Linked DNA regions of Homo sapiens: region 1 is linked to region 2. Evidence: fine-mapped expression QTL. A gene starts in region 2. The other region holds a variant in brackets. All regions are shown on one strand. Distances are from middle to middle.

Evidence for each region. PIP is the estimated chance that this variant, and not a neighbour inherited with it, causes the effect. A credible set is the group of variants that fine-mapping cannot tell apart.
Region 1: its variant is the best candidate, but not a certain one, in a credible set for the expression of FGL2 in whole blood (TOPMed, PIP 0.81).

What each region holds. Positions count from the first base shown.
Region 1 is chr7:77,342,414-77,346,806 of GRCh38, reverse strand. All of the region lies in intron 19 of GSAP (gamma-secretase activating protein), which reads left to right. Among named protein-coding and RNA genes, the nearest start is that of GSAP, 72 kb to the left of the region's middle. The variant T/G (reference allele first, on the strand shown) is at 2,044.
Region 2 is chr7:77,197,418-77,201,810 of GRCh38, reverse strand. It overlaps FGL2 (fibrinogen like 2), which reads left to right and starts at 1,992. Exons shown (of 2, transcript NM_006682.3): 1 at 1,992-2,630. The coding sequence starts at 2,018. The region is part of intron 2 of CCDC146 (coiled-coil domain containing 146); the gene reads right to left. RefSeq lists a silencer at 2,292-2,401.

The sequences.
Region 1 (4,393 bases), 140 kb before region 2:
AGGCTATGGGCATTGTGAACCAGGAGTGGGTGGATGAAAATTAATACATACAAAACACCACAATAAGTATGTCATACTTTTTTTTTTTTCTTTTTTTGAGGTAGGGTCTCACTCTGTTGCCCAGGCTGGAGTGCAATGACATAGTCACAGCTCACTGCAACCTTGAACTCCTGGGCTCAAGCAGTCCTCTTGCTTCAGCCTCCTGAGTAGCTAGGACTACACGTACATGTCATCATGTCTGGTTAATTAAAACTTTTTTTTTTTTTTTTGGTAGAGACAGGGTCTTACTATGTTGCCCAAGCTAGTTTCAAACTCCTAAGCTAAAGCCATCCTCCTAACTCGGCCTCCCAAAGTGTTGGTATTACAGGTATGAGCCACCATGCCCTGCTGGGTTGCAGTGCCTTAACTCAATTGTTCTTCTGTTTTTTGGACATTTAGTTTGTCCCTAGCCCCCATTAAAAAAATTTCTTTTTGCTGTTAGAAATAATGTTGCAGAGAATTTTTTTTCTTTCTTTCTTTTTTTTTTTTTTTTTTTTGAGATGGAGTCTCATTCTCGTTGCCCAGGCTGGAGTGCTTTGGTGTGATCTCGGCTCACTGCAGCCTCTGCCTCCTGGGTTCAAGCGATTCTCCTGCCTCAGCCTCCTGAGTAGCTGGGATTACAGGTGTGCACCACTATGCCCGGATAATTTTTGTATTTTTAGTAGAGGCGGGGTTTCACCATGTTGGTCAGGCTGGTCTCGAACTCCTGACCTCAGGTGATCTGCCCACCTCGGCCTCCCAAAGTGAACATTTTTATACATACAGTTTTTCTTTTGATCTATTCCCCTAAGGTTAAGAGCCCAGAGGTAACATTGGGTGAAAGGCTATGACGATTTTTATAGCATTTGATTCTTATTTTGTGATAAATTGATATTCAATGAAAGGGATGTCACGTGCGTCCAGGTGAAGAGACCACCAAACAGGCTTTGTGTGAGCAATAGAGCTTTTTAATCACCTGGGTGCAGGCGGGCTGAGTCCGAAAAGAGTCAGCGAAGGGAGATGGGGTGGGGCCGTTTTATAGGATTTGGGTGGGTAGTCAAAAATTACAGTTAAAGGGGGTTTTCTCTTATGAGCAGGGGCGTGTGTCACAAGTTGCTCAGTGGGGGAGCTTCTGAGCCAGGAGAAGGAATTTCACAAGGTTAATCGCTCAGTTAAGATGGGGCAGAAACAAGTCGCAATGGTGGAATGTCATCAGTTAAGGCAGAAACCGGCCATTTTCACTTCTTTTGTGATTCTTCACTTCCTTCAGGCCATCTGGATGTATACGTGCAGGTCACAGGGGATATGATGGCTTAGCTTGGGCTCAGAGGCCTGATAGTCCTGTCTTCTTATATTAATAAGAAAAATAACATAAAATAGCATTGAAGTGTTGGGGCAGCAAAAATTTTTTGGGGGTGATATGGAGCAATAATGGGCAATGTTTCTCAGGGCTGCTTCGAGCAGGATTAGGGGCAGCATAGGAACCTAGAGTGGTATAGATTAAGCTGAAGGAAGATTTTGTGGTAAGGGGTGATATTGTGGGGTTGTTAGAAGGAGCATTTGTCGTATAGAATGATTGGTGATGGCCTGGATGTGGTTTTGGATGAATTGAGAAACTAAATACAAGGTTTGAATAAGAGAATGAGAAAAACAGATATTAAAGGACTAATAATTGGGAGGACCTCCAATTAGAGAGTGCCCAAGGGGGTTCAGCATAATTACTTGCTTGGTTGGCAAGTTTAGGCTCTATCCTTTAGATTTTTATGTTGTCATATACCAGGCCAGACTGATTTAGGTAAAAACAACACTTTTCATTTAAAAATATACAGAGTCCTTTCTTTTTTTGTTGTTGTTGTTGCAGTGAGTAAGTTGAGGCCTCAGCGATTTTGGAGGAAAGAGAAATGCAAAGCCAGCAATTGTTTGTTAAAGAAGGATTAGAAATGGCTAGGTGAGAGTGAGATTGGCAGTGTGGTGGAGATAGCTGGGGAGAGGTAGAGGGTGGCATAAGAATGGGAACAAGAATAA[T/G]AATGAGTATAAAAGTAAAGAATAGGACTTCGTCAGGGTGAAAGTATTGGAGTGTACCCCGTCAGCAAAGATCATCTATCCACTCTAAAAGGGAGTTAAGACTGGCAGTTGGGGATAGCACCAGGAGATACTAGCTGTGATGGCTTGGAGCAACAGTGTAAACCAGCAGTGTAACAAGAGCAGGACATTTATGAGTAGTTGAGAACAGTGAATAGGAGTATGACTAGACAGAAGATAGTACGGATGACAAGTTTTTGGGGTGCAGTCCAAGTTGGGCTGGTGTCTGGAATGAGCCTGGAGCCTAACAAAAAGGAGCGTCCATACAGAAGCTCAAATGGGCTGTACCCTGTAGCATCCCGAGGACAGGCCTGAATTCTGAGAAGGGCAAGTGGTAAAAGTATTGTCCAGTCCTTTTTAAGTTGGAGGCTGAACTTGGCGAGGTGTGTTTTTATAAGACCATTAGTCCATTTTACCTTTCCTGAAGATTGAGGATGGTAAGGGGCCTGAAGGTTCCACTGAATACCAAGAGCCTGAGAAACTGCTTGGGTGATTTGACTAGTAAAGGCCTGTGTGTTATTGGACTGTATAGAGGTGGGAAGGCCAAACCGAGGAATTATATCTGACAGAAGGGAAGAAATGACCACGGTGGCCTTCGCAGACCCTGTGGGAAAGTCCTCTACCCATCCAGTGAAAGTGTCTACCCAGACCAAGAGGTGTTTTAGTTTCCTGACTCCGGGCATGTGAGTAAAATTAATTTGCCAGTCCTGGGCAGGGGCAAATCCTCAAGCTTGATGTGTAGGGAAGGGAGGGGGCCTAAACAATCCCTGAAGAGTAGTAGAATAGCAGATGGAACACTGAGAAGTGATTTCCTTGAGGATAGATTTCCACGGTGGAAAGGAAACGAGAGGTTCTAAGAGATGGGCTAGCGGCTTATAACCTATATGGAAGAGGTTATGAAATGATGACAGAATAGAATGGGCCTGTGAGGCTGGAAGGAGATAATTTTCCTTGGTCTAAGAACCATTTGTCTTGTGTGGGAAGAGATTGATAGGTAGAAGTTAGTCAGTGGGGGAGTAGGTGGAAGTGACCGATGAGAAGGAGAAAAACTGGCAGTGAGGGACAGAAATTGGAATGCTAGCTGCTTCTTTAGCTACCTTATCAGCATAAGCGTTGCCTTGAGCGATGGGATCTGACACCTTTTGATGGCCTTTGCAGTGAATGACTCCAGCTTCCTTTGGAAGTAAAGTGGCCTTGAGAAGAGTTTTTATTAAAGAGGCATTAATGATGGAGGACCCTTGCATAGTGAGGAAACCTCTTTTTGCCTATTATATAACAGCATGGAGGTGCAGGATATGGAAGGCATATTTAGAGTCAGTATAAATATTGATGCGTAGTCCTTTTGCAAGATTGAGGGCTTGAGTTAAGGCAATGAGTTCGGCTTGCTGAGAGGTAGTGGAGGGGGGCAGAAAGTATATGCGTCAGGTGTGAGGAAGAAAATAGATTTTGGAAGTTATGAGAACTGTAGAGAGTGAGTTGAGCATAGTTTGTGATTTTGAGGGCCTCTAAAAGTATTAAAGCGCGGCAGCTGCCACACACAGACATGAAGGCTAGGCTAAAACAGTAAGATCAAGTTGTTTGGACAGAAAGGCTGCAGAACACGGTCCCGTCTCTTGTGTGAGAACTCCAACCATACAGCCCTGCACTTTGGCTGTGTGTAATGAAAAGGGAGTGATAAGTTAGGGAGAGCTAGTGTGGGAGCTGTTTTTTAAGGAATGGAAAGGAGAGTGGGGAAAGGATTTAGGATCTATGGGGTCAACTAGGTTTATCTAGAATAGAATAATGGGTTGTGGAGGGAGGTATTGAGGATAGGAGAGTATATAGGTTTGGCACTGTGGGGTGGATAGGCAAAACAATTTGGTTGATAAGTCGCAGATCCTGAGCTAACCTGTAAGGCTTGTCTGGTTTTTGGACAGGTAAAATAGGGGAATTGTAAGGAGAGTTTACAGGCTTTAAAAGGCCATGCTGTAATAGGCAAGTGATAACAGGCTTTAATCCTTTTAAAGTGTGCTGTGGGATGGAATATTGGCATTGAGCAGTGTAAGGGTGATTAGGTTTTAATGGGATGGTAAGGGGTGCATGATTGGTCGCCAAGGGGGGAGTAGAGATGTCCTATACTTGTGGATTAAGGTGGGGAGATACAAGGGGAGATGCGAAGGAGGCTTTGAACTAGGGAAAAGGGCAGAATGAGAGTGTGGCTGTAACCTAGGAATAGTCAGGCAAGCAGATAATTTAGTTAAAATGTCTTGACCTAATAAGGGAACTGGGCAGGTGGGGATAACTAAAAAGGAGT
Region 2 (4,393 bases):
TGAGGTTAGGAGTTAGGGGATTAAATAGATATTTTTAGCTAAAAAGTTTTTGTCTAAAATTGGATATATTGAATGGAATGAAGAGAAAAACAATTTTTGAAAGAGCTATATGAAGATGGAAGAAAAAAAGTCATAAGGTGTGTAGAACATGTTTGACAAATTTATTTGGGAAGAATGTTACATTTATACACTGCATTTTTTTTTTTCTTAAGTGCTCTAAGTTTTTTTTTTCTTTTTTTGTGAGGGGTGGGGCTGGGGGATGGAGTTTCACTCTTATTGCCCAGGCTGGAGTGCAGTGGTACGATCTAGGCTCACTGCAACCTCCACCTCCTGGGTTCAAGTGATTCTCCTGCCTCAGCCTCCCGAGTAGCTGGGATTACAGGCACACGCCACCATACCTGGCTAATTTTTTTTTTTTTTTTTGTATTTTTAGTAGAGATGGGGTTTCACCATGTTGGCCAGGTTGGTCTCAAACTCCTGATCTCAGGTGATCCACATGCCTCGGCCTCCCAATGTGTTGGGATTACAGGCGTGAGCCACCACGCCCAGCCAAGTGCTCCAAGTTTGCATGACTATCATTCCTGTATGAGGGAAGAAATAGCTAAATTCCTCCGCTACAGCTACAGGAACAAAGGCTCATTAAAGCTGATGATCTGTTTACATGATCAGAGGTAGATCTAGGGTTGGAAGCCAGGTCTCCTGAGTATGCGAGAATAAATACAGTCATGGAAGAGTAAAGAGTCTGCCAACATTTTGAGAATGTGAATAGGATTTGGCTAAAATTAAGGGGATATACAGAAAAGTCATAGGAAATCAGGTTAAAGACATAAATATGAGATAGGCTACAGAGTGTTTTAAGTAATACAATAAAACATTTAGATTTTTGCCCATGTCAGTCATTTTGAAATTATTTTTAAAGCAAAAAAACCCTTTTTAAACAAGAAATCTTATGAGATGTCAATATGCAAAACAAATTAAAAGGAGGTGGTTTCTCTAACTGAAGCTGTTCCTCTTTCCTGCCTTCAGCCTCTGAAGAGAAAGTTAGAAAACTATTATCATTAATGCTACATGTTTTGAACAAGCTGATATACCAAGTGGCCCAGAGAGCAGGTAGAAGAACCAGCGTGGAGACAGAAAGCAAGAGGCCCGCCTGCCAGGGCTACCTGCAGAAAGAAAGGGCAAAGATGCTGTAGGCAAGAGAAGTTCAGGACAGACACTGGCATAGCTCAAAGATTCACATTTGAGCAGCTGTGGAAGATGACAGTACAATTACCAAAATGTCGAAGGGCAAAGGAGGCAGCTACTGGTTTTGATGAAAGACAATTATGTCCTTTTAAATGGGTCTTAGACATTTAGACATTAATATACACTATGCTACGGACAAAGGAATAGAAAGTAGCACTTTTTTCTCCACTAGTTTTCTTCTCTTTTTCAAGTAGATGAAGCAAAAGTCAACTGCAATAGTCAGAAAGCTGTACTTTGTTACACTTAGAAACTTCTAAAAGTGCTTAAGATTTCACCTGAAAGTCCAACATGAAGAAAATACAGGCTCCCCAATGCCCCATTCTAAGAAGGAAAAAGGACCATTTTCATTTTAGTAACGTTTCTGTTCTATAGACAGTTTGGATAACTAGCTCTTACTTTTTATCTTTAAAAACTGTTTTTCCAGTGAAGTTACGTATAATTATTTACTTCAAGCGTAAGTATACCAAATTACTTTAGAAATGCAAGACTTTTCTTATACTTCATAAAATACATTATGAAAGTGAATCTTGTTGGCTGTGTACATTTGACTATAATAATTTCAATGCATATTATTTCTATTGAGAGTAAGTTACAGTTTTTGGCAAACTGCGTTTGATGAGGGCTATCTCCTCTTCCTGTGCGTTTCTAAAACTTGTGATGCAAACGCTCCCACCCTTTCCTGGGAACACAGAAAGCCTGACTCAGGCAGCTGCCGCTATTAAAGCAGCTCCAGCCCTGCGCACTCCCTGCTGGGGTGAGCAGCACTGTAAAGATGAAGCTGGCTAACTGGTACTGGCTGAGCTCAGCTGTTCTTGCCACTTACGGTTTTTTGGTTGTGGCAAACAATGAAACAGAGGAAATTAAAGATGAAAGAGCAAAGGATGTCTGCCCAGTGAGACTAGAAAGCAGAGGGAAATGCGAAGAGGCAGGGGAGTGCCCCTACCAGGTAAGCCTGCCCCCCTTGACTATTCAGCTCCCGAAGCAATTCAGCAGGATCGAGGAGGTGTTCAAAGAAGTCCAAAACCTCAAGGAAATCGTAAATAGTCTAAAGAAATCTTGCCAAGACTGCAAGCTGCAGGCTGATGACAACGGAGACCCAGGCAGAAACGGACTGTTGTTACCCAGTACAGGAGCCCCGGGAGAGGTTGGTGATAACAGAGTTAGAGAATTAGAGAGTGAGGTTAACAAGCTGTCCTCTGAGCTAAAGAATGCCAAAGAGGAGATCAATGTACTTCATGGTCGCCTGGAGAAGCTGAATCTTGTAAATATGAACAACATAGAAAATTATGTTGACAGCAAAGTGGCAAATCTAACATTTGTTGTCAATAGTTTGGATGGCAAATGTTCAAAGTGTCCCAGCCAAGAACAAATACAGTCACGTCCAGGTATGTATAATAATGTTTTCTTATCATATGTTCATAAATGTTATACAGCTAGAGAGTATCTATAAACATTAACCTGAGTCAGTAAGTTAAATAGATGACAGATTAAGTCTTTTATTTATCAAGGTGCACAGGAAAAAATAAATATCTTCTCAAATATGACCACATAAATATGACCTAATTACAAAAATCATAGTTAGTTCTGTATCCACTGGAAGTCACTTTCAATTTTAAGATCTTATTTGTTAATGCCAGACCTACTTGCAAGCAGAAGTAGAGAGAATTTCTTGATGTTTTAGTGCATTTAACTTGTCTCTTCAATGAGGTGTTTGAAAACAATAAAGATAAGGCGATGTTCACAATTGTGCCTTGTTTGTTGGAAATCAGTTTTTCTTGTGATTGACTGACTGCCGCTTCTCATGGCTAAAGAGGTCTTTGAAAGATTTTAGCAAGTAATCTAGTTCTTAATCCCAAATATCTGGAGAAAATGGGAGAGTTTACAGATGGAATAAAAGCAGTTTCATATGTGTGCACAAATTTTTGCTTTGAGACCTAGTGGCACAAAAAATATTTTAAGGGGAGAGTTTTAGCATGCCACTAAGGGAAGGTATTCATATTTCTTTCTCTTTTACCTGAAGTTAGAATTCAAGCAGATAGAAGTAGAACCCATCCTCACCATCCAAATTACTTGAATTAACTTTAATAAATACATGTGAAATTCCACAGACTTAATCGCCTACTCCACCCACGAACTAACAGTGGTATTGACTCTCCAAACCTTGGCTTTTCACCTGAGTCACTGGGACCACTGTTGCTGACTGTCTCATACTTTGGAAAGCCATCTCCGCATTTGGACCTCTACTTACCATGAACGTGAGGTTGAAAGGACAGGGCGGAGATCACTTTCATTTAGAGACAGTATCTCAGGCATGCTCCATCCCCAGGGCATCTGCCAGTGAAGGAGGGAAGGGTCATATTTTCAAGGACCTCTATTGGTAATACTCCTGGCAGCCTGCATCTGAATGTACCTGGCACACTGCGAATCCAAGGTTCACCGCTTAGGTGACATCAGTGGGTATACATTAGATTAGATGCTGCATGGCAACTTGTCATGATATGAAGACTATTGTCTATTTTTCTCCTAAACATTTTGGGTGAAATAACTGAATATTCTGAGCTCTAAATATACAGGAATAGATTTTTATGCCTTAGGGTATCTCATATTAAACTTACCTTATTTGTCACACATTTTAATAAAAACTATCTGGGAGTAAATATCTGTCTGATTCATACAGAACTTTGTTAACTGATTATTATGCTTATCCTCAATATAGTCACCTGTTGTTTCTTTCTAGAAACCCAACATGTGAAATAGTGGCTAAATACTTTCCTAGATAATAAATACAGAATAAGAATATTGGTGTGTCATTGAAAAAGATACTTCTTTTTCACTTGAGCTTCTTTATATAGTTGTCAAGTGAAATGAATATGAATTTATGATCAATCCTATGCATTAGGATTTTAACACATCATTTGGAATATATGCTATAAAACCTTCTGACAGTAGAGGCTATCAGCCCCTTTAGGTGAAAGAAAATAGAAGCCTGTGCTTCCTCTGTATGCAAGGAATACAGTTCTAGGAGAGTTAGAATCATCTGATTTTTAGGACCAAGGGATGCAATGATTACGAGAACAAAGCTTTGCTGCCAGCCAGATCTGAGTTAGTGTCCTGGCTCTGCCACTTAAAGCTCAGGTGAAGGTGGGCA